Regions from separate parts of the Homo sapiens genome. Here regions 2 and 3 are each linked to region 1. The links come from fine-mapping of genetic effects on gene expression. A gene starts in region 1. Each other region holds a variant in brackets. All regions are shown on one strand. Distances are from middle to middle.

Region 1 (8,187 bases):
GTTAAATGAGACACAGCTAGTCTAACCTTAGGCCTATTGTGACAGATGTCATTTCTTGGAGAACAGACTCATTAAAGATTTTTTAAAATCCTCAAATGAGTTTTAATTCAACCTTACAGAAAGGTGCCCTGCCCAGAAGTTAACAAGGTTTTCCTCCCTCCCGAGATAGCAGAGTGAGTTGTGTATCACTGACCAAAAATGTAAGACTGACCAGAACAGTTAACTAATCACGGATTCAAAAGACAAAAATGATTTATTTGCTACTGAAATTTTGAGGAATGATTACCTGGCCCCTCACCATTTACTTATTTAGGGTTTGCTATAAGGATGCAGTTCTCTATATTGCCCCATGCTGAAGGCAATTCTTCTAAATGAACTCATAAATGGTATTTTTTTCAGGACTTAGTGTGAACATAGCCAATAAAAAGGCCGTTATTCTGGTGGTTTGTTTCCTCCACTGGTTACCGTTATTGCAGAAATAACCATTGTTTCATTAGAGTAGATGCAGGAGACACCAAAGAAGCACTAGGATGAGGAAAATTACACCAAGGGCATGCAGACTGAGTGCATTGGAGCCTAAACTCAATTTTCTGATTCTTTCCAAATATTCTAGGGCTTAGCAATGTATGTGCGAAATATTCTTGTGCATACATTGCTCATGCGCACACTTATTTTTGTACTCTTTGCTCTGGATCTAAACCCTTGTGGGATAGAAACTGAAAAATAATTCTTGTGCATACATTTATTTTTCAGTTTCTGTCCCACAAGAGTTTAGATCCTAGAAAGGGTTGCGAAGGTCTTTGAAGGCAATGACTAAATGAATTAATTGTTCTATGATAAGCTGAACACAAGAAAAGTTTTGGTGAGTAGAAAGTCTGGCTTAACAGCTGCATGCATCTTGTTTGTTTAAATTATTTCTGCTTCTGTTATTCGGGTGTGCGTCCGTTGTCTGTGTGTGGGTTGCAGAGGGATGGCTTGGTGGCTGTGGGAACAACAGAGCAAGGAGTACATTTTTACACTTTACTGTAAAGTGAACTGAAACCTCAATAAACCAAATTTCAGCTGCAACAAAGCCCAGCCTTTTCCTTTTGAAGCTATAAATACGCTTTTCTTATTAGTATTGTTCACTAATTTTCATAGTTTTGTTTCTTGATTCTACAAATACAAGTCAATTGCTTGCACAACCAAGTATGAAAAGATGCCCCTAACAACTTAAAAAGTTTAATTTTATTTAGAATAAATTTTGCATAGGCCATTCTTTTGCATATGCCATATGTGGGTAAATTATCAAATACGGAAATGAAATAGGGGTTCTATAGTACATAAGGCATTGTTGATTTACGGCCTAATTTGCTTTTTATTGCAAATGGATAAATATGGATGGATGAAGAGTTACATCTTTGCATTGATTCCCTATTCAATAGATATTTCTTCCATCCGTATCCTTCCTTCCACCCTACATCAGTTTGTCAACTTCTTTCAAGACTCACCTTCTCCAAGAGACCTTTTTTCATCAATTTCAACCACTCTCCCACCTGGGATGCCTGTCTTACTTTTTTTTCCCCCTGAACATTTATGCAGACACTGTGCTAGGCTAACTGGAATCTTTATGTAAATTCTTCTCATCCAAATTGAAAGTTCTATGCAAGGGCCTCTTCTTGCCCTTTTATAAAACAGCAACCACTCAATGGCATGAGATTCATAAAGGCTAATTCAGTAAGTATCCATATGAATTGAAAAACAGCCTTTGAAGGACCTAGAAGATCTAGAGGAGATCCCAAATCCAGTGTGTTTAGGTCACACTGCACCCTAACAGTTTCTACTGACCACCAGCAGCAATAATAAAAATTGACACAGTTACCACCCACACAGGTGTACATATTTATGTCAATTTCTCCTACCATCTTTTAGACTTGAGAAATGAAAAGTAGAGCAAATTCTGGGGAACATTGTTAATATATTAAAATGCAATTTAATGGCAAATTTTGCTCCTTGATCACTTCTTTGCTTATTTTAGAGAACCAAAGAGTTTTTTTCCAGAATGATTAGAAAGATATTTAATTAATGTAGGTGAAAGTTGTAGGTATAATGACCTAACTCCTATTGCAATGTATCACAGTGGATAAGATGATAAATTAATGGGCATTTGTTAGCCATGTTTAAGATTAAATATTAAAAAAGTCATTAAACTGATTGTGCTTTGAAAATAATCCCCCCAGAAAAAAAGAGTTAAAATTGCTTTCTTTCTTCTTTCAACCCATTTGAGTACTCTAGGGTACACTCTCCAGTGTCAACAAAGAGATCATTTATATCAGGTATAATTTTCAAAGGAACAACCATCTCATTTGTAAATCAACTACTACATTTTAAGATCAATGACCAATGCTACTACTCACCTAATCTTTTATTATTAAGGCAGATAATCATGAATTAATTCAGTTGATCTTTTAACAACTTATATAGTGAAGATATCTGCAATAACATACTGCAAGAGAAATTGTCAAAATCTTTTATAGGTGTCTCTCCTACTTGTGTAATGATAAATATCTTTTGGTTTTCAAAGCATCAAGCATACTGGAAGTAGTAAGTATTCGGTTAATGTTTATGGATCTATTTGTACTTTGTTTATTTATACTCATTGGCCCATTTGGTTTAACTAGCCATCCCCTGAGTTATTTTCCCAATTTTTCAGATGAGAACAAATAAAATCTTCAGAAGGTCACAAAAATAATAAGTAGTGAATCCTGGACTGAAATCTACTCATTTCTGTCCTCATAAAATACTGGAGAGAGAGAGAGAGAGAGAGAATAAATACTTTATTACATGTCTCATTGTTTTCCAGTTTTACAGTACTACAGGAAAATAAGTGTTTAATAATAATTGCTAACATGAAAAAATGTAACACATACAAATGTTATCTCTTCCACTTTCAACTGATGAGAACTGACGTTTTATCAATCTTCTGTATAAAATCATTTCTGTTAAGTTCTGTAAAATTTGCATCAATTCTTCTATATATAATCATCTTTGTAAAGTTCTTGAGAAATGTTTGGATGAAATACTGAACTACAAACATAAAAGTCAAGATGTCAAAATATAATGTCAATTTTAATATTACTTTATACTTTGAATTGCTAGTGATCTAATGATTGATATAGGAATATGTTTGAAAGCCAAAAACATTATATAGATACTTTGTGGCAGATATGTCAGAATGTGATTATACTTAAAACAGCATTCTATAAATTTGAAGAATGTGAATTAATGATAGAGATTTCAGATTTCAGATTATTATTTGATATTGAATATAGATTTTTATGGAAGTCAAAATATGGAGTAAAAATATTATATAAGGAGAAATGAAGATAATCTCACAGAGTTAAAGCATGTGATTTTTGTATTTTAATTCTAACTGACCATGTGACATTTGGGAAGGTCATTTAATTTATTTGAGCCTCAGTTTTGGGGTATGTAAAACCACAGTAACTCATATCTTTCCTTGCCTACCCTCTAAGATTGGGGAGAATCAAATTAGATAATGCAGGTGAAATACTTTGCAATTTTCCCTTTAATATGACATTGTTTTATAACATTATATTACTGATGCAACATTTATTTGCATTATGAAATATCTTCTAAGGAATAAAATATTTGGACATCACTACAATTGATGAGGACTGCATGTGTATTTTTGAAAGCTGTATTCTGATTTACAGAGCAAAAATAAAAAATAAGCAAGCTACCAAATATGTAAATACAGGAATTAGCCCAGTAGTATTTGTTCTTCTGTTCCACTACAGGCTTTAGAGTAATATCAGTGTGTGTTTTTCTTACATAACTATGTGACATTACTTAGGGCATAATTCTAAAATTTCTGTCCTAGGAGACACTAGATAACTCTCAAAAACTTCTGATTTGCTTGCATCCCTTTTTGGCAGAGTGGTCACAGTATAATGCGGGAGGGTAGGTGACCCCAGAGTTCAGAGTCCTCATGCACCCGGGAGCAAAATTCACAGGAAAATAAGCCCACATGGAGCTACTGCATTGTCTGATGGCCTCGTTCGAGGAGGCGTCAATTTAACTTTAAACCCATGAGCTCATTGAGAGCAGGGGAGAGAAGGGGATGTCTCCAAATTCAGGAAACTGTTGCCATAGCATTTTCCCTTCTCTATTCCTGCATAGCCCTCCTCCCCCGAATCAGCAACAATTTTTGCTCCACCGTTTTCTTTCGGGAACCAGATGCGTTTTCAGAAGACAGTACTCCAGTGATAAGGTATCTACACCACTTAATAACTGTACCTGGTAAGGAGATTTAATAAGGCTGAGGGTGGTATTAAGTTTCTCAGAACAGACTCATCTTTGCGGATGCAGTTGCAGAACAGGAAACAGACCCAGGGAGAAGTTTAGTCCCCCCAGATCTCATTGGCCCTCCGCACAAGCCAAGCCACAGCCACTCCTGCCACACAATCGGATTGCTTTCAGCACTCGCAGCCGTGGACCGCCGTGCGGTCCTTTCCTCCGCAGTGAGCCGATTTGCTCTGCCAGCAGCTGTCGGTGCCGCGCTCGACACCGAGTCCTAGCTAGGCGCTCACAGAATACGCGCTCCCTCCCTCCCCCTTCTCTGTCCCCCGCCTCTCGCTCACCCCGGCCCACTCCAGCGGCGACTTTGAGGGATTCCCTCTCTGGCGGCCTCTGCAGCAGCACAGCCGGCCTCATTCGGGGCACTGCGAGTATGGATCTCCAAGGAAGAGGGGTCCCCAGCATCGACAGACTTCGAGTTCTCCTGATGTTGTTCCGTGAGTAGCGATTTGGCGACTGGGAGAGAGGACGGGCACTCTTTGCAGAGAACAGAGCCGGCAAAGTAAAGTCAATTAGCTTGAGATAAAAAATATGGCCCTTAATGTTTTGCGGTGTTTTTTCTTTTTTTCTTTTAGGGGAGGAGGGAGGGCCTTCCTCGCCGGTGGCAGGGAATTCCCCTGAGAGCCATACACCTCTGTGGCATATTCCAGACAGAGCCTAGACAGGCCAGCTTCGTGAGGTCAGAGCATTGGCAAGAAATATTTACTTTAAAATCCCAAGATGTAGAAAACAGCCAGCTATATTACAAACAAAGTCAGGATTTTTAATTTTTTTAACTGTATTTTCATTATAAATTAACAGCGAAGGAATGAGGCTTGTTAGACCCGGGTTAGAGAAACGGCTCGTAGAGCGCACAGCTGCTGGCAGAGAACTTTGTCACTCCAAAGCCTGCAGAGCACTGTCTCCCCACCCTAGCGCCCGAGACGCGTGGGCTGAGCCCTGAACTGATGGAATTGTTTTGTTTGTTCCGCAGATACAATGGCTCAAATCATGGCAGAACAAGAAGTGGAAAATCTCTCAGGCCTTTCCACTAACCCTGAAAAAGATATATTTGTGGTGCGGGAAAATGGGACGACGTGTCTCATGGCAGAGTTTGCAGCCAAATTTATTGTACCTTATGATGTGTGGGCCAGCAACTACGTAGATGTAAGGAATCTTTCCCCCCCCTCAGCTTGCTCCTAGGGCTCCAGGGCGAAGGGCACCCTTCCTCAAGGCTCTTCGAAGACCTGGGTTGCCCGCCTTCTTTCCCACACCCCGGCAGGCTGCTCCCGAATGCTGCATGGGGATTCCAGCTTGTAATGCCTTCTGTTCCCCTGCCTGCTTTGAAAGTAAACCCCCTTCTCTCCGCTTCCCTATCGGGGCTGCACGTAGAGCATCTAACCGCATGTTCCCGGAACCTGGGATGCGCGCGCGCAAAGGAGCGCCCAAGCGTGCAACCCAGAGTTTGGACGCGCCGCCCTTTACAGCCCCCGCCCCGGGGCCGGGCGAGCTGAGGGGGCGCGGGGCGTCTGTGTTCCCAGCTGATCACAGAACAGGCCGATATCGCATTGACCCGGGGAGCTGAGGTGAAGGGCCGCTGTGGCCACAGCCAGTCGGAGCTGCAAGTGTTCTGGGTGGATCGCGCATATGCACTCAAAATGCTCTTTGTAAAGGTAACTCCGAGCCCAGCGGGCAGAGGGGCCGCAGGCTCCGCGTGGGTGTGGGAAGTGGCGGCCCCTAGGTTTAAGAACCCAGACGCTGCGGGGACGATTGAAGCGCACCTCCCCGGCTCAACAGGAAAGCCACAACATGTCCAAGGGACCTGAGGCGACTTGGAGGCTGAGCAAAGTGCAGTTTGTCTACGACTCCTCGGAGAAAACCCACTTCAAAGACGCAGTCAGTGGTGAGTGGAGGCTGGCATGGCTGGGGAGGGAGCCTGGGAACTCGCAGAACAGGCTTGGAGAGAGAATTCCTCAAGGTTTTGGAAACCGTCCCACGCTTTGAGGTCCCAGGCCAAGTCTTCCCTCGGCTTGCTCTTTAGGGCGGAAGAGGCGGGAGCGCCCATGAGTCTTCTGGGTCTCAGGCCTTGTAGATCCGCCAGGAACCGCAGGCGTGGGGACCCAAACGTCACCCGTGGCCTGATCCTAGATAAGAAGTCCCTTGAAGGCCTGTCGTTCCCTGGTGCTTCAAAACGACCTCTTATGATTTGGCCTTTGAAGGACCACGGAGAAGGGCAAAGCTGCATTTTAATTTTCTTCCGCATCCTGGTTTTGTTTCTTATGCGCTAAAACTGCAAGGGGGCAGTGCGACTTTCCTTTTCAGTCAGGATGTGATGGCCTTCAGTGTCTTTTTGCGCATGGCAGCATGGCTCGCACGGGATATTCAGTCATCGACTGCAGCTACCTGACAGTGGATTCTGCACCATGTATAATTTACTAGCGTTTCTGGCCCATCCCTCCGACAACTCAGCCAGATCCTCCTCGGCAAAACGAGCGTTCATCCCCCAAATAACAATATTCCTATCTGCAGACACCGTCAAAGACCACATTTAAATTTATTTTATTCTTTATAAGTTGTCTATTTCACTCATAATGAGGCCCTTCATCACCCAGGCACCTGAGTTGGGAAAGGATTTTTATTGAATACATAAAAATACATGTGTCATCTTTCCCTTTTCACCCCTTTTTGTTATCACAGTAAAAGGAGGATTTTTTCTTTTTCATCAAAGTTTAGATGCAAGATGTCCCCCAGTTAAATTAGACCAAAAAGGAAAAAGGAAAAATCAAACTTAGGTCAGAAAAAGAGCAATGGGAGGCAGACCTTCAGAGGGGATGTATGTGTGTAAGGACAAGCATCCAGAGGACCAGCAATCTGTCCGGCTTTGTTGAGGAAGATGTTTTATTCTTTGCCAGGCCCGTGTGAAATGTGGAAAACCAAGTCACTGTTCCTTCTGTGTCTTTGGAATCTCCATTATTAGGGATTTTTTTTTTCTTTTTTGAAGTGCGGTCTCACTCTGTCCACCAGGGTGGAGGGCAGTGGCACCACCATAGATCACCACAGCCTGGAGTAAGCTACTGGGCTCAAGAGATTCTCCCACCCCAGTTTCCCCAGTAGCTGGGACTACAGGCATGTGTCACCATGCCAGACTAATTTTGTAAATGTATGTGTGTGTGTGTGTATTTGTAGAGACAGAGTCTCACTATGTTGCTCAGGCTGGTCTAGAAATCTTGGGCTCAAACGATCCTCCCACCTTGACCTCTGAAAGTTTTGGGATTACAGGCAGGATCCACCATGCCCAGCCTAGGTTTTATACAGTAACAAGGGTTGGGTTTTTAAGTATCATTCTCCTCTTCAAAAAAGGAGTTCCAAATTAATATTGAAAGAGCCCTGGCTCTCAAGATAATGGGTGTGTTTGTCCTTCATCACCACTTGATGCCATTTGTAGAGCCCTAGCCCTGGCAAGGGAACAGAGAGGACAGGAGGGGTGTGGTGTCTGGAACTGAGAGGCAATAGCCAGCTCTCTGGCACATTAGGTTAGGAACAATGAGGGTTCTAACTATTGCTCTGGGCTCTTGCTGTAGCTGGGAAGCACACAGCCAACTCGCACCACCTCTCTGCCTTGGTCACCCCCGCTGGGAAGTCCTATGAGTGTCAAGCTCAACAAACCATTTCACTGGCCTCTAGTGATCCGCAGAAGACGGTCACCATGATCCTGTCTGCGGTCCACATCCAACCTTTTGACATTATCTCAGATTTTGTCTTCAGTGAAGGTAAGTTGTTGGGGGATGGAGGGGAAGAAGACCTAGTTTATTTCAGGAAGGATGAGAGAGGGACCTACCAGGGCCCCAG
Region 2 (8,187 bases), 26 kb after region 1:
AAAGGCAGAGGAGACCTGTCCAGGGGAGGTTGCCTCCACCTTTGTCTGCCCTGACATGTGATATACAATGCCTTTTTTTCATCCTGCTAGCTCAGGCTACTTCCTGAGGGTTTTTACCTTCCAACATTTCTGGATGGAAAATAGGCTGTGTATATAAAAGTTCCCCCATCCTCCAGCTTCACGAGATCAATGTTAATGTCCCCCTTGTCTCCCAAAGTGGAGGAGAGAGCCCAAATTATCTTCTAGGCTCCCAGAGAGCTCTCAACACGACCTCTTGAATCCAGGTTCTATTATAAATACACATGCACACGTATGTTTATTGTGGCACTATTCACAATAGCAAAGACTTAGAACCAACCCAAATGTCCATCAATAATAGACTGGATAAAGAAAATGTGGCACATATACACCATGGAATACTATGCAGCCATAAAAAAAGATGAGTTCATGTCTTTGCAGGGACACGGATGAAGCTGGAAACCATCATTCTCAGCAAACTATCATAAGAACAGAAAACCAAACACCGTATGTTTTCACTAATAAGTGGGAGTTGAACAATGAGAACACATGGACATAGGGAAGGGAACGTCACACACTGGGGCCTGTGAGGGTGTGGGTGGTTAGGGGAGAGATAACATTAGGAGAAATATCTAATGTAGGTGATGGGTTGATGGGTGCAGCAAACTACCACGAGAGGTGTACACCTATGTAACAAAACTGCATGTTCTGCACATGTAACCCAGAACTTAAGGTATAATAATTAATTAATTAATTAATTTTTAAAAAAGCCCTCAGATCAGTTTTGCATCTTTGGAACAGGGAAGTAGAATGAGAGTCTTCAGCCCTGAACCTGGCTTTCCTTGAACGTGGCCTTCCAGAATTTAGTAATTTTTTTTTCAGTAGTGGTATCGACATCACCATCTTACACTCTTTACAATCCCTAGGGATGGATATATTTGTCTTTACGTCATGTCATCACAATGTTACATACAACTTTGTACCAACTCATTTGCACTCCCCAAGATCACAAAGAAATCATTCTTGGTTACTCAATAAAATAAATTTGAGAAATCACTGTTTCCAATAACACAATGGGGAAAAGGCAAACATTTATTTTTATTTGCAAATGCAGTTTCTGCCAATAGTTAGTGCTCACAAAACCTTTTAAGCTACAGTAACTTTTGGTAAACTCAATGAATACTTTAAAAAATACCCGATGGTAAGAAAATTACAGAAAAATTTCCATTACACTGTCGAAAATGTTTGGAATCCAAAATCCACTATTTTCTGCAATAGTTTTTAATGTTTATTCTGGTTTAAAAAAGATTTTCTTTTTCTTTTCTTTCTACTTCTACATAGTCCTGGTTAAATTAATACAATCTGTCTCATGAACATTTAGGACTGCCATTTTCTGGATTTAGATTGTTTTTATTCTCACATATTTATATTAATGCTTTAATATTTTACATAAAACATTGATTTGCTGTTTTATGAAGCAAAATCATAGATCATATTTATGGAGGCATTTCCAGTTTGAAAGAAAACTGAAAATCTAATCAGTAGAAGGTCATTTTATGCCTTTTTTCCTTTTTAGCAGTGATAAATAATTAGCAACCTATTAATTACAAAAATTCTTAATTATGCTTAGAGCAACCAGAGCGCTATCACAAATTTAAATTCATATTTGTTACAGTATGTGAAATAGTTAAGAAAAGCCTCTGTTTTCCCAGTTTGGTAACAAATGGCTTTTGTCTGATGCATAATTAATAGAAACTAATGATGACTATGTAGCTCTTCCAGAGTTTTAAAGGCAAATCTATATTGGCCTACAGTTAACATGCAAATTCATCCAACAAGCAACACAAAATGTATTGTAGTAGTCATTCATTTTTATCAACATTCAAGAAGATCTAGACAGCAGCACGACTCTCCTATGTCGGAAACACATTATAACATGGGCACAACTGAAGTCAGATCATACCTGGTAAAATACCCTCTTGCTAATTCATCCTCTAGAGTCAGTTCAGACTTCCAGCACGATACATGAACAATAGCGATTAATACTGTGGTACAAAGGTAAATATAGACAAGAGTTTGGTGTGCTAGCATACAGAGTTTTAAAAATGGTGACAAATGAAACCAAACGTCTTGCCCTGTTCTCTCCTCTCCCTTTGTGAGCCTGGAATTCTCATGGTCTCACTGAAACATTCTATTTTGGGAACTGAATCCAATGATCCTAGCACTGAAATTGCTCCCTGGGAGGGAAATTTGGCCACAAGGGAACATTGTACCCATTTGAGAAAGGGCACTGAGGGAAACATTGTGGTGTGCAAAAGAATGGTTTGCTACTAGAGGCGTTCATGGAAAATGTGATCTTTAAAAATATTTAACTTTATCCCAAGGAGTGGTATACTGTGGCTCAAATTTTATTTCATTATTTTTGGTTGGATTAATGAAACGTGCACACCATCACCATCACTCTTAATTCTTCTTCCACCAAATAAGACACTTGTTAGGATAAGAAAGAGATTTTACTAAAGCTGACGGTGATTGAGAGTCATTCAGTATTCAAAGTTCCTAAAGAATCATTGGTTCTCTTAAAGGGATAAAAAAGTAGGAAAGGCTTTGTTCAAACTCCTCTAGTAAACAAGTATTACTTCAACTGATACAATGGCTACATGACATCAAAGTACTATAAATTATCAAAACTATCGTACAGAAAAATTACAAATTCGTTGCAAAATACATTATACTGCTACCATTAAGAAAAAAGTGCTTTTTGTTTTCCTTTCTTTCTTTTTTTTTTTTTTTTGCCAGAAAAGTATTCTTTCAATATAGAAAATCCTACATGTTACCCTGCATGTGGCTAGGATATATCATAACGGAGTTTGTACTGAGTCCTTCTGATTTGCTGGATGAAGGGCTGAAAAATATAATAATGACTTATTAAAGCCGTGCTCCAAGTGACCACACCGGCTGTCAGTGGAGAGATGCCTGTTTAAGACACAAGAAGATGCCCTGGTCTGTTGAACCCTGCCGGTCATCACGCTGTCCCACCAATTGGCTGGTCTAGAATGCACAGGCCTTTTGCATGTTCTGTGTTTCCTTTTGTTCTCCTGAATTATTCTCATGTCCTCATCTAGCTTTGCCACCTACACGAATCCTCTGCTCAGTGATGCCTGTATTGTCTCATGAGGGGGACGATGCAAGACGGTGGACCTGCTAGTTTTAAGAATGGATGTCCGAGGAGTTCCTGGGCTGTTGCTCTCTGAGAGGGCTCCCTCACCAACATCAAGTCTAGGAATCCCCGGAGCACTGAAGAAACCTGTGAAAACACACAGATACCAATCTGAGGACTAACACAGACACCTAACCCAGTCCCCAAAATGTTTTCCCCATTCATCCTATCAACAACTTCAAATTCCAGAAAGTTACCTTAAGGAGAAAGATGTTGTGAAAGCAAAAGCATGTCTTGTCTTTGTTAACATTTCGTGTTTTCCTTACCTTTTTCAAGTGTGAAATAATAGGTGTAAATGACAGCTCAACTAAGAATGAAAACTTATTTACTACATAAAATAACAGTGGCAATCACAGTGATAAGAGCAGCTATTACAAAATATTTAGTATGTGCAGGTGCTGGTCACACGTGCTTGATGAAGCATAGTATAAACAGGGAGCCGTTTTATTTTTCTAACAACTGCAACCACACAGGCTCTGTGGAACCCCTTTCTTTAAGAGAAACAAGCTTCTGTAAGGATATCGAACACATCTCATTTTTTTCTTTGAAGGTCTTGTAATTTTCCTTTTAAAGGTATATC[T/A]TACTTTATGTATATATTTAGAGATGAGGTCTCACTATGTTGCCCAGGCTCAAACTCCTGTGCTCAAATGATCCTCCCACCTCAGCCTCCTGAGTAGCTGGGAGTACAAGCATGTGCCAGCATGCCCAGGTTCCGCTGCACAAATACTAAGAGTGTGGCTCAATGGATTTTTACATACATTTACCCCTATTTACTTTCCACTCCTATCAAGATATAGAACTTTTCTACCACTCTAGGAAGCTACTTTTAGGTTTCCTTCCTGCCAACCCCTATCTCCCTGCAAAAGGTCACCACTATTTTAATTTATAGCATAACTTAGTTTTGCTTACTTTTGTACTTTACCAAAATGGAGTCATATATTTGATTTCTTCTCTATCTGGCTTCTTTCACTCAGTGTTGTATCTGTGAGATTCATCTCCGACGTGTGGCAAAAGTTATATCTTTTAAATTACTGTGTAGTATTCACTGTCCAATTATACCACACATTATCCATTTGGGAAACAACCTCGGACTGGTTTCCAGTTTTTTTGAAACCATTAGGATTAAAGTTGTTCTTGTACATGGTTTTGAAGAACATTGGCACTCACTGGGTGTGAGACTACTTTCATATGATACATTTTTAGTCACTTTTTTTTTTTTTTTTGGAGACGTAGTCTCGCTGTGTCACCTAGGCTGGAGTGCAGTGGTGCGATCTGGGCTCACTGCAAGCTCTGCCTCCCAGGTTCACGCCATTCTCCTGCCTCAGCCTCCTGAGTAGCTGGGACTACAGGCACCCGCCACCATGCTTGGCTAATTTTTTGTATTTTTAGTGGAGATGGGGTTTCACCGTGTTAGCCAGGATGGTCTCCATCTCCTGACCTCGTGATCCGCCCACCTCGGCCTTCCAGAGTGCTGGGATTACAGGCGTGAGCCACCACACCCAGCCACTTTTCATTATTTAGACTTAGTCCAATCCAGTAAAAATTTCAATCTCTCTTTTTTTGTTTATGTTTTTGTAGGTCCACACAACCTATATGAGTGATGCTACTGGGGCTGTTCCCTAAGATTTAGGGGTGAGGAAGGAGGAGATATTACCATTACAAATAATTCTCCTCCAAAAGGCAGCCACACACTCTCTTTTATTGTCATAAGATAGGAAGAGAGGTGTGTATGGGGCCAGTGTTTATAGTAGTAGTCCTGCAGAAATGATCCTCTGAGCAAGTCCTTTGGAAATCTGGCAGCTCCTACAGTGGTGATTCTTGGATGAAGCATCATTATTTTCTGAGCTCGTCCTAATTGGCAATCCTTGGAAAACAGAAAAGACCCCACTCGGTCTCTTACATGCATTATATTAACCATGACCTTCATTGCCCTGTACAATCTAGCTCCTGCCCATCTCTCTGACAAGACCTACCTTTTTCCCCTTTCTGACTTTACTCCAGCAATGTAAGCCTTCTTTCTTGGCTTAAGGCCTTTCCACTTGATGCTCCCCGTGCCTGGGACCTTTTTCTCCAAGATCTTTGCATGGCTGGTACCTTCTTCCTATTCAGGTCCCAGCTCGTTTGATCCCTCCCTAGAAAGGGCTTCCTTCACTCTTCAGCTTAAATCAGTGATAGGGTTTGGCTCTCTGTGCCCACTCAAATCTCACCTCATATTGTAATCCTCACATGTCAAGGGAGGGACTTGGTGGAAGGTAATTGGGTCATGGGGGCAGTTTACCCCATGTTATTCTCAAGATAGTGAGGGAATTATCATGAGAGCTGATAGTTTTATAAGTGTCTGGCATTTCCCCTGTGCGCTCTCTCTCTCCTGCCACCATGTAAGACATGCCTTGCTTCCCCTTCGCCTTCTGCCATGATTGTAAGTATCCTGAGGCCTCTCCAGGCATGTGGAACTGTGAGTTAATTAAACCTTCTTTATTTGTAAATTACTCAGTCTTGGGTATTTCTTTATAGTAGTGTAAAAACAGACTCATACAACCAGCTTTCAATCCCTTCTCCTGCACACTCTGTCACATCACAGTATGTTTTTCTTTCATAGTATGTACCACACTCTGAAATTATTTTATTTATTTGTTTGTTTATGGTTTACTATCTGTTTCCCCAACTAGAATGCAGAGTCTAGACCCCAGAGTCAGAAAAGCTGGGGTCATGCACGGTGACATCCCAAGCTATTAGATGTCCCCAGCATGTAATAGATGCTGAATGAATGAGTATGGCATAGAGCACCTGATTTACTCTTCTAACCAACCCTTTGGGATACAGGCCAATCATAACCCATTTTACAGATGAAGAACTTTGGCATAGGAAAGGCTGAGTCACTTGCCCAGTAAACGAATAGAAGAACAGAGATTCAAACCTAAGTGACTATTTCCAAAGTCCATGCTCATAAACCAGGATCTTCCTGCTGGATGTGGTAAGCCAGTCTTAAAAACCAGAGAGATACAGGAAAATCCAAAAACTATTCTGAACTTTAGCAACAGCTGCTGTTTCTCACCTTGTGTAGGTCCTTCACTCTTGGAGGTAAACTGTCCCGGATCCTCCGCATCGCCTGGAGGGGAGGCTCATTGAAGTAGGGGGGCTCGCCATCAATCATTTCTATCACCATGATCCCGAGGGACCAGATGTCCACCTGTTAGGCACACCCTACTGGTTATCTCAGGCAAGGAGAACATTCTGAAATGTCAAGTGTGTCCACAGAACCTCATACTCATTCACAAGTGACTATGGCACTTGTAACCTCTCAACATTTACAATATAGATTTATAGGCTAAACTGCTGGGTTACCGAGTTTTTGCTAACAGTCTTTGCCTTTTATGGACAACTTCAGTGAAGGTTCCACCCATCAGACATAAATGAATATTTTAACATTCTAAAGTTTAGTGCTTTCATTTTTACTCTGTAAACTTTAGTAGTTAACTGTCTATCAGGGCAGATGAGAAAATCATCCGGTTTAATGCTATGAAAATGGAGAAGAAAATTGTATTTAAACCATAAGCAAATAAGAAAGTTTTGACATATTTGTAACAAACTGCAAAGGGCTACCTTGCAGGATGCAGAATATATTCTGATTCTTTTATTAATTTGCTTTTAAAAATAGCTCTTTTCTCCCCTACTTTGGGATTTCCTTCCACTACCTTTTATTATCATTTCAAAACAGCATGCACAAAACCTCACTTTACAAAAGCATTTTCAGGGATTGGAGAAAAGAAAAGGAAGAGATGACAAGCAAGTAGTAAAGAATGGGAAGTCGAGACAATGAGGAGCCATCACTGTGCTATAAACTCCCAGTCCCACTCACTTTCCTGTTAGGAAAGTTTCCTGTTAGGGCCTCATTATACCTCTTATCTGATGAACGTATTGCTATTATTACCCCTTGCAGTGACCTTCACCGAGAATTTCTCTCTCAGGACCACAGTGAGAAAAACAAGTTGAGGACTCATCCAAGGTCAAGCAAACAAGAGAAAGAGAAAGATTCTGCCTTAACTTATGCTGATGTCCTTAGCTCACGGCCATGTCTTCTCATGCTTCTCTTCTCCCAGATTCACCATCCACACCATAAAGTGTGGAAACACTATGCCTAGCCGAAACATACCCCTTGGCTTCCATCTGTATGTAGCCTTATGTGCCTCTAAGCTTCCACCCATGCTATTACCTCCCAAGAAGGCCCTTCCTCTACTCCTCTGGCCCTGCATTTTCACATTTCCAGGCCCTACCTCTTAAAAGATTAAGAGTGATTGTTTTCATTCCAGTGGAAACAGAAATTGTGCCATGTTTTTGACTATGATTCACATATTATTTTTTTCCTATGAGAAAACAGTGTAGGTCCTTCACTGTGAGATGTAAACTGTGTTGAAAACAGTGGGTCATTTAAATATCACCTCTATTTTGTGGCACTTTCTTTGATCCTCTTTCCTTTCTCTGAATTCTCATGCCTGCTCATCTGCATGTCTCCAGCCACTTTGCAAGTTGCATTGCCTTGCTTTGTGTGTGTGCCTGCTACTGAGAGTGGGATCAGAGTTGGAGTGACTTTCCCACAGTGTCCACTGTAGGACTGCAATAAACAGCCCTTGGATAAATACTGCAGTGATCTGCCCCAGGGGTGGCCAGGCTCCCACCTGCCACAGCCTATCTACTCTGTGCCTCATCTAGTGAGTGGGGATCAAATGTGGAGCTAAAAGTCATTGCCCCCATCTCCTGTGGTCACCAACTATCTCAGAACCAATGGGTCCCTGAGCCTGTCCCCAGTCCTGCCACGCCTATGACTGTGACCCCCTTACCTCTGTCCCATAAGGTAGCCTAGAAATCACCTCAGGGGCCATCCAGTAGGGAGTGCCAACCAATGATTTCCTCTTCGGCACCTCTTTGGAAACTTGAGCACAGAAACCAAA
Region 3 (8,187 bases), 23 kb before region 1:
CATCAAAAAGCATGTTCTTTATTCATAATAATAAAAAGCTAGAAACAAATCAGATGTGTACCAATAGGAGGATGCATTGATGAAATGTAGTATATTCACAGGGTAGAACACATGAAAGTACTTACCTTATGATTCCACATACATGAAGATCAAGGAAAGGCAATGCTAATCTTGAAGGAAGTCAGAGTAGTGGTCCTCTCTGAAAAAACCTTCCAGGATGATGGTGATGGTCTATGCAAGTGGTTCTCGAAGTGTGTATCAAGGATCCCTTGGCAAGCCATTGTGTCCCCCAAGAGACTGTCAGAGGGTCTGTGTAGTCCTCTTGTTTCCAAATCCGTCTCTGTGGGAGGCCAGATTTCTTCATATACTGCAGTGAAAATGACATATCACAACAGACCGAATGAAGAAAAAGACATTAGAACTCAGATGACTTCTGTAAAGCCATACGTTAAAGACATTTGCAACAATGTAAAACAATGCCACTCCTCCCACCAACTTTTAGAAAATACAGTTATGTTTCACAAAAAAGTTATTGTAATAGTACAATATTGGTTATATATTAACAAGTGACAGTTTTGTTATTTTTATTGAATTGAGAAATATTTTGAAATTCCTGTTTCAAATTTTTAACATAGTAATGCTTACAGATATAATTCACATAAACAAACTCTGAGTTTTTTAAAAATATTAAGAGTGTTAAGGAATCCCTGAGGCCAAAGATTTTGAGAACTGCTGGTCTATAACTTACGCTGCGTGGAGGTTACATGGGTGTTTATACAGGTAAACATTGATCAGGGAATCAGGGAATACACCTAAGATTTGTGTCTTCCATTGCATGTATAATTCTCAATTAAACCCATGTTTTAAAAATATAGCAATAGATATATGTTCATGGTATAAAGAGAATGGGGGGAATGAAATATAATTTAGTATACAAAAATACATATACACATTCAGAAGACCAATAGGGATGATGCCAAAATAACAAAGTTTACTTCTGAAGCCTGTTGCCTAGTGGAAACCATCGAAGAGGCATAATTACTCAGAAGAGTTTTGAGCATAAAATTAATTCAGCAGGCTTTGCTGCTCCACAAGGAAACTATTCTACTCCTCTCAAAAGCCTGTGCTGAGTGAGGGAGGCAGAGTTGGATGTGGAATAGACTCTCTTTATTCTTCCCTTCTAGCATTTTCCATGCCAACTCTCCAAGTCTGCAACAGAAAATGATTTGAAACAATACAAGAGTAACTTAAGAGAGAGCCTCTCACAAGGGACAGGAAATGACACACCCGAGAAAAATAGCAGAAATATCCACTTAGGAAAGGTGGCAGCTGTCAGATTAAAGAGAACCCAGATGATGAATTTGGCATAAATTCTCCCAAGGGGATCTGCAGTAACATTAAATGATAGTGCAAAGCAAAATGGAAATGGGTGCAACTGGGATCAGCTGAGATAGATGAAACTTTCTACTTGTAGAAGTCAGTGTGGCAATTAACAGTCTAATTTGGGATCCCACTGACTACAGCTTAGATCCTAACTCCGCTATTCACTAACTGCGGACTTCAGGCATCCTACTTAATGCCGCAGAATTGGAGCTTTCCATCTGTAGAATGGATGTAATGCCACCTACCTCATGGTGCTGCTGTGAGAATCAAGTTAGCTTTTGAATCATTTAATACATACAGTTCCAGGCATATCCTAAGTGTTCAAAGAGTGGTATTTTGAAGATCATTTGTGGCTGTGTTTACCTTTTTAGCTGAGAACTCCTCTTCATCTTAATACATACTCTATAGAAACTCTTTTAGGAATTTTAAAATAATATCATGTCATTATTTTTGCATGATATATAAAGGTATGATTTTAAATATTTGGAAAAATGTATTAGATTGATATACTTTTAATAATTGGTTAGCAAAGTTCATTTCAATAAGATGTTTAATAGAGTAATATTCATTAGATACCTCTGAAGAGACAAATTCCAACTTTTTCAGTATACCAAGCTTTAAAGGAAGATAATACATTTTATTTATTCATTTATCAGTTAATAGATATTTGGGTTGTTTCTGATTTGGGGCTATTATGAATAATGTTGCTATGAACATTCACATACAAGTTTCTGTGTGGATGTATGTTTTCTTTTCTCTTGGGTATATACCTAGGAGTAGAATTGCTGGGTCACATGGTAACTCTACGTTTAACTCTTTGAAGAACTGCCAGACTGTCTCCCAAAGTGGCTGCGTCATTTCACACTTCCACCAGCAGTGTATGAAGATTCTGAGTTCTCTACATCTTTGTCAATACTTATTACCTTTTTTATTATAGTCATCCTAGTGTGTGTGTCGTTGGTATCTTATTATGGTTTCGACTTTCACTTCCCTGATCCTTAATGGTATTAAGCATCTTTTCATGTGCTTATTGGCAAGTTGTATATCTTTTTTTGTAGAAATATATATCTCAGAACCTTTGCTCATTTTAAATTGTGTTGTCTTTTTATTACTGAGTTGTAGGAGTTCTTTACACATTTTAGATACTAGTCCTTTTTCAGATATATAATTTGCAAAATTTTTCTCTCATTCTGTGGGTTGCCTTTTCACCTTCTTCATGGTGTCTTTTGAAACACAAAAATTTAAATTTTGATGAAGTTCAATTTGTCTATTTTTCTCTTTTGTTGCTTGTGCTCTTGGTGTCATATTTAAGAAACCATTGCTTCATCCATGGTCACTGAGATTTATGCCTGCTTTCTTTTAAGAGTTGTATAGTTTAATCTCTTACATGTAGGTCTTTGATCCGTTATGAATTCTTTTTATATCTACTGTAAGGGTGAATGCCATTCTTTTGTATATGGATAGCTAGTTGTCCCAGAACCATTTGTTTTTGTTTTTGTTTTTACATAAGTTCTAGAGATCTACCGAGCCTCTGTTGAAAAAACTTTTTCTCAATCAAATTGTCTTGGCATCCTTGTCAAATATCAATGGATTACAAATGTGGAGGTAAACTCACTGTTAAACTCCCATCATGTCCATTGGCATTGCTTAAGATGTGGATGACCTTCACCTAGCCAAATCCCATGTGTCTCTTCTACATGCTCATCAAAACCTCTCTGCAATGTTTGACACAGTCAACCATTGCCCCATTCTTGAAACACTCGCTTGTCTTTGTCTTCATGACCTCAAACTATGTGGAGGCACAAACTTCCCATGCTCCAGTCCCACCTTATCTAACAAAATGCTTTCTTTTCTTCCTTTCA[C/T]GAGAAAAGATGGATCTCAGGAATCTTTTGTCTATGATGCTTCCATCCCATGACACCCTTCCAAATTCTTCCCTACTCACAATGGAATGCAGAATTTATGACCCAGACCACGTCTGTTAGCCATTAGTTCTAGACTTTTGTCTTTTACACACTTATTCTTATCACCTCATGTAGATTGCAAGTTCACATTGTATTCCTCTTCTATTACTGCATAACAAATGACCACAGAGTTACTGCAAACCCACTTACTATCTCACAATTCTGTAGGTCAAAGGTCTGGGCACAGTGTGGCTGGATTCTCTGCTCAGAATCTCACAGGACTAAAGTGAAGCGTCAGCTAGGCTGTGTTCTCATCTGAGGCTCAGGATTCACTTCCAGGTTCAAGTAGTTATTTTCAGAATTCAGTTATTCGCAGTTATATGATTCAAATCCGCACTCCCATGCTGGCTGTTGGTTGATCAAGGATAGTTCTCAGCTCCTAGAAGCTGCCTAGTTCCTTGTCACAAGGCCGTATATATAGGTCCTCTTTACAACATGACAGCCTACCCATTCAAAGCCAGCAGCAGAATCTCTTTTAGCATTCCTCTTTCAGGAAGGATCTAGCAGTTCCTTTTAAGGACCCACTTGATTAGGTCACCCCTACCAGGATAATCTCCCTTTTGATTACCTCAAAGTCAACTGGTTTGACTTATTATATCTGCTAAATTAATTACATCTGCAAAATTCCCCCATTTCAGGTAATGCAACCTAATCAAGGAAGTTAAATTTATCAGATTCACGGTTCTGCCCATGCTTCATGGGAAGGGGTTATTCAGAGTACATGTACAAGGAGATGAGAGTATTGGGGGCCGTCTTAGATTTCTGCCTAAACACCACATGCACGCACACACACACACACACACACACACGCGCACACACACACACACTCATAGCACAGACTCCGAATGTTAAAGTTAAATCTAACATGTTTATAGCATTTAGTGAGCTCTCTCATTTAATTTTCATGTTACAGGCAAATGGAGAACCTTATCACCATTGTACAAATGTTGAATCTGAGGTCACAAAGCAACACCATGGAGATTAAAAAACAGAACCCATTTATTCTCCTGGGTCCAAATTTCTGTTCTCTGTAGAACCACCACACTGTCATAGAGATCATCACATCCTATTCTTAAAAACCATGAACACAAAACCACCTGACAGTTTACAATGAACAAAGAGCATTTGTCAAAGGCACAATGTCATTTCATTGTCATGGCAACCTATTAGTACAGTTTTTATCATTTCTGCTTCAAATGAGGAAATGAGTGAGTGAGCCCCTCAGTACAGCACTTAGCACAGTAAAGAACAAATAATACAGCCTGACCAACATGGTGAAACCCCGTCTCTACTTAAAAAAAAAAAAAAAAAAAATTAGCAGCTCATGGTGGTGGGCGACTGTAATCCTAGCTACTCAGGAGGCTGAGGCAGGAGAATCGCTTGACCCCTGGAAGCGGAGGTTGCAGTGAGCCAAGATCATGCTATTGCACTCCAGCTTGGGTGACAGAGTGAAACTCGGTCTCAAAATAAAATAAAATAAAATAAATGAACAAATAATAAACTCCCTGCTTTTGGTGCTGTTATAAATTAATTTATGGATACCATCATACAAGGTGCTGTGAGGAAAATGCAAAGAAACATGATCCCTGCACTAGAAGGATTTATTTGTTGATAATACCTCAGGATTTGATAAATCCCATGCATTCCCAATATTAATTAGATTTGGTTTAAAGAATGCCAATCAAAAAGGGAGTTCAGCAGGGTAATAAAATCTAAACAGAACTTTGCTTTTGAAAGTCTAGTCTACGAGTCAGGAAACTATATATTCCACTGGCCAAATCTGGTCTCTCACCCGTTTTTATATGGCTCATGAGATAAGAATGGGTTTTATGTTTCTGTGGTTGGAAAAATGTTAAAAGAAAAATATTTGGTGATTCATAAAAATTATATGAAATTCAAATTTCAGTGTCCATAAAAAAATTGTACTGGAACACTGACATGCTCATCCACTTAAATATGACCTCTAGTTGCATTTGCGTTATGACAACAGGGTCAAAGATTTCTAACAAAGACCATATGACCTGCAACGTCTAAAATGTTTGCTCTCTGGCCCTTTGCAAGGAAAGTTTGCCAGCCTTCAGTCTAGCCCATTTACCCTAGAGTAGAGAAGAGGGGAGGGATGGGGGTGCAGAGGCAGAGTGGCAGGAACCCAACTCTAGCTTTCGGGGAGGAGAAGCAACAAAGTCTCCTTGGAGCCCTCAAAGACACAGGGTTTCTGAAGTCCAGGGCCAGGAAGTGGCAGAACCTTAGATGGTTCTGCTGCCTGACTGATTCCAAGCCTTGGTTTCTGCTGCTTTTGGAACCTTTGCAGACAAAGAGAGCTGCCAAGAATGAAGGCTTCCTTGGGCCCGGCACGCTTGCCCTTGCTGGGTTGGACAGGAGACAATGGCTACAGTGACCTCTGGGACTGAGGAGTGGGCACCTCCCCCACTCCCCAGGTGTTTAAAAGCCGTAGTGTGATTGTGTGGTTCTGAAGAAGAAGACAAATGGTGCGGGATGTCACAGTGTGTGTTCTGCAAAAAGTAGAGCCTCGGACAAAAATTTGAGTGCAAGTATTTTATCTGGAGGTGATCCCAGGAAATAGAATGAGGGTTTGGGGGATGGAAGTAAAACAATAAAGGAATAATTACGGAGAATGTTACCTCTGTGGGCGATGGGCACAATCCCCCTAGATATTCGGCAGGATGGTGTAGCACACACCTCAGAATTGTCCCACCAGGGTGGAGACAAGGGGTATTTATCCATCAGCATTCCCTTCTCTTTGGATGGGAGTTTTTCTTGAGGGTAGTGACTCCCTAGTAGCTAGCTCCAGCCAGCCCCTCATGGGCCAAGCAAGCTCCTGGAGCCAGAGAAGCCCTCAGGGAGAGAGCTGCATGTGCCAGAGGCAGGAAGTCTTAGGCATGAATGAGATAGTACTAAAGCTATGGGAGGTTGAGGAGACAAGGGAATATGAGTGGGGCACCAAAAGTGTCTACTGCAGTGGGCTCCCCTTCAACTTTGGAGAGTTAGCAGCATTGGGAGAGAACATTCAAAGTAGACTTACTTTGTTTAAAAAAATGATACTTCCAGCTGCTGGAGTGTGCCCGATGTTCATATATGTGCCTTAACTTTCCTGTTAGATGGCAGACTCCTCAATGTTATGCAAAAAGACACATCCTGAAATTTTCTTAGTGGATTATTTGATAAGGAAAAAATATTAAGAGTTATTTGCTTCCTCTTTTCTTTTTCTCTGGCTATCCTCCGGTATGGACGTTATTCGCAAGAAATAGAAACAACAAAAGTCCCGAATAATCTAAAATAAGGTACTCTTGAATTATCAAAATTAACTATCAAAGTCAGTGAGAACTAACCAGCTCTGCATTATTATTTCCCATCTTAGATATTCTAGCCATTAGGACAGAAAACATGAAAGACACAAATACCGTAATGTGTGCTATATTTTAGTAACAATAAAACCTCTAAAGATATGACTGCATTGTGGGCTTTGTTTAATGATTAACAACAAAAAAAAGGATGGTGCATTTCCAGTTGAAACTGAATCCAGCCAGCTTTCCAGATTTCAAAGGCTTTATAATGGAAGAAACAGCCCATAAGTGGGTCACAAACAATCTTGTCCATTAATCATCCCAAGTCTAGCAGATATGCATGCCGGGTGCCAAGAAAATCATGAGACTCTGTCTCAAAGACAGTGTGCCTTTCTAAATTTTCTTCTTAATGTAAAAGTCTAATATTTGGGTTCAGTGATATTTTGCATTTGTATGAGAAAATGGACCCCACTCTAAGAGCAAGGATAAAGCAACACACCCAACTTTCAAGAGGCAAGAAGGATCCTTGGTAATCAGAGTCTCAGGTTTATACATCCAGCAATGACCTCCCTGTTGATGCTCAAATACTCAAAGCTGCCGTTGGAAATTTAATGGGCATTTCAAACTTAAGTTATTCAAATTAGAATTCCTGGGTTTCTTGCCTGCTCCTTCCCAGCCTCAGGTTAAAACTCTCAGGATTATCTTCGATTAATGGCTTTCTCTTGTCCCTTTGGTATAATCGATAAGTATTATCAGCTCCTCCTCCAGCATATTTCTGAAATGGAATCACTTCTCAACACTACTGAGATAACCACCCTGGTTGTAACCAATGTCATCTCTTGCTTTGACCACTCTAACAGCTTCCTGGTTTCATTTGCATCCACTCTTGAGCTCGTGCAATCCTCTCTGCACGCAGTAGAAGAGTGATCTTCTTAAAGTATAAATCAGACTGATTGTGCAGGTCATCTGCTTAAAATCCCATAATACTTCCCTCTCCACTAAAAATAAAGGCCAAACTCCTTTCCTAAGCCTATAAACCTTCATGTGATTCTGCCCTTTATTCCAGTTATCTATTGTTGCATAACAAACTATCCCAAAACTGAGTGCTTGAAGCAACAACAATTCATTATTTCTCATGGTGCTCTAGGTTGGCTGACCTCAGCTGGCTAGTTCTTCTGCTCCACTTGGTATTGACTGGGGTCGCTTGTATGGCTGTGCTTGGTTGGGAACCCAGCTGGGGCTGAAATGTCCAACATGGTTTTCCTGACACATCTGGTGCCCCAGTTGGGATGTCTGCCTGGGCTGCTCGCTCCCTCTCCACATATCTCTCCACATTTAGTGGTCAAGTTCAAGTTTCTTTACCTGGACGCTGAATCTCAAGAGAGCAACAAAGGAAACTGCCAGAATCAATTCTTAAAGCCTAGGCCATGATATTCCATTGGTCTATGCCATTGGTCAAATTAAGTCATAAGGTCAGCCCAGACTCACAGACTCAAAGGGGAGGGAAGATAGGTCCACCTCTTGATTGGAAGAAGGAT

What was found. PIP is the estimated chance that this variant, and not a neighbour inherited with it, causes the effect. A credible set is the group of variants that fine-mapping cannot tell apart.
Region 2: its variant is the best candidate, but not a certain one, in a credible set for the expression of LAMP5 in whole blood (INTERVAL, PIP 0.81).
Region 3: its variant is the best candidate, but not a certain one, in a credible set for the expression of LAMP5 in whole blood (TOPMed, PIP 0.70).

The regions. Positions count from the first base shown.
Region 1 is chr20:9,510,121-9,518,307 of GRCh38, forward strand. LAMP5 (lysosomal associated membrane protein family member 5) reads left to right here and starts at 4,470. Exons shown (of 6, transcript NM_012261.4): 1 at 4,470-4,796; 2 at 5,333-5,505; 3 at 5,880-6,011; 4 at 6,136-6,241; 5 at 7,920-8,108. The coding sequence starts at 4,733. It overlaps LAMP5-AS1 (LAMP5 antisense RNA 1), which reads right to left and starts at 4,878. Exons shown (of 5, transcript NR_109957.1): 1 at 4,644-4,878. RefSeq lists enhancers at 1,037-1,086, 5,405-5,989.
Region 2 is chr20:9,536,293-9,544,479 of GRCh38, forward strand. PAK5 (p21 (RAC1) activated kinase 5) reads right to left here. Exons shown (of 10, transcript NM_177990.4): 8 at 8,077-8,187; 9 at 6,294-6,428; 10 at 1,078-3,325. The coding sequence ends at 3,170. Among named protein-coding and RNA genes, the nearest start is that of LAMP5-AS1, 25 kb to the left of the region's middle. The variant T/A (reference allele first, on the strand shown) is at 3,819.
Region 3 is chr20:9,487,047-9,495,233 of GRCh38, forward strand. No RefSeq gene overlaps it. Among named protein-coding and RNA genes, the nearest start is that of LAMP5, 23 kb to the right of the region's middle. The variant C/T (reference allele first, on the strand shown) is at 3,246.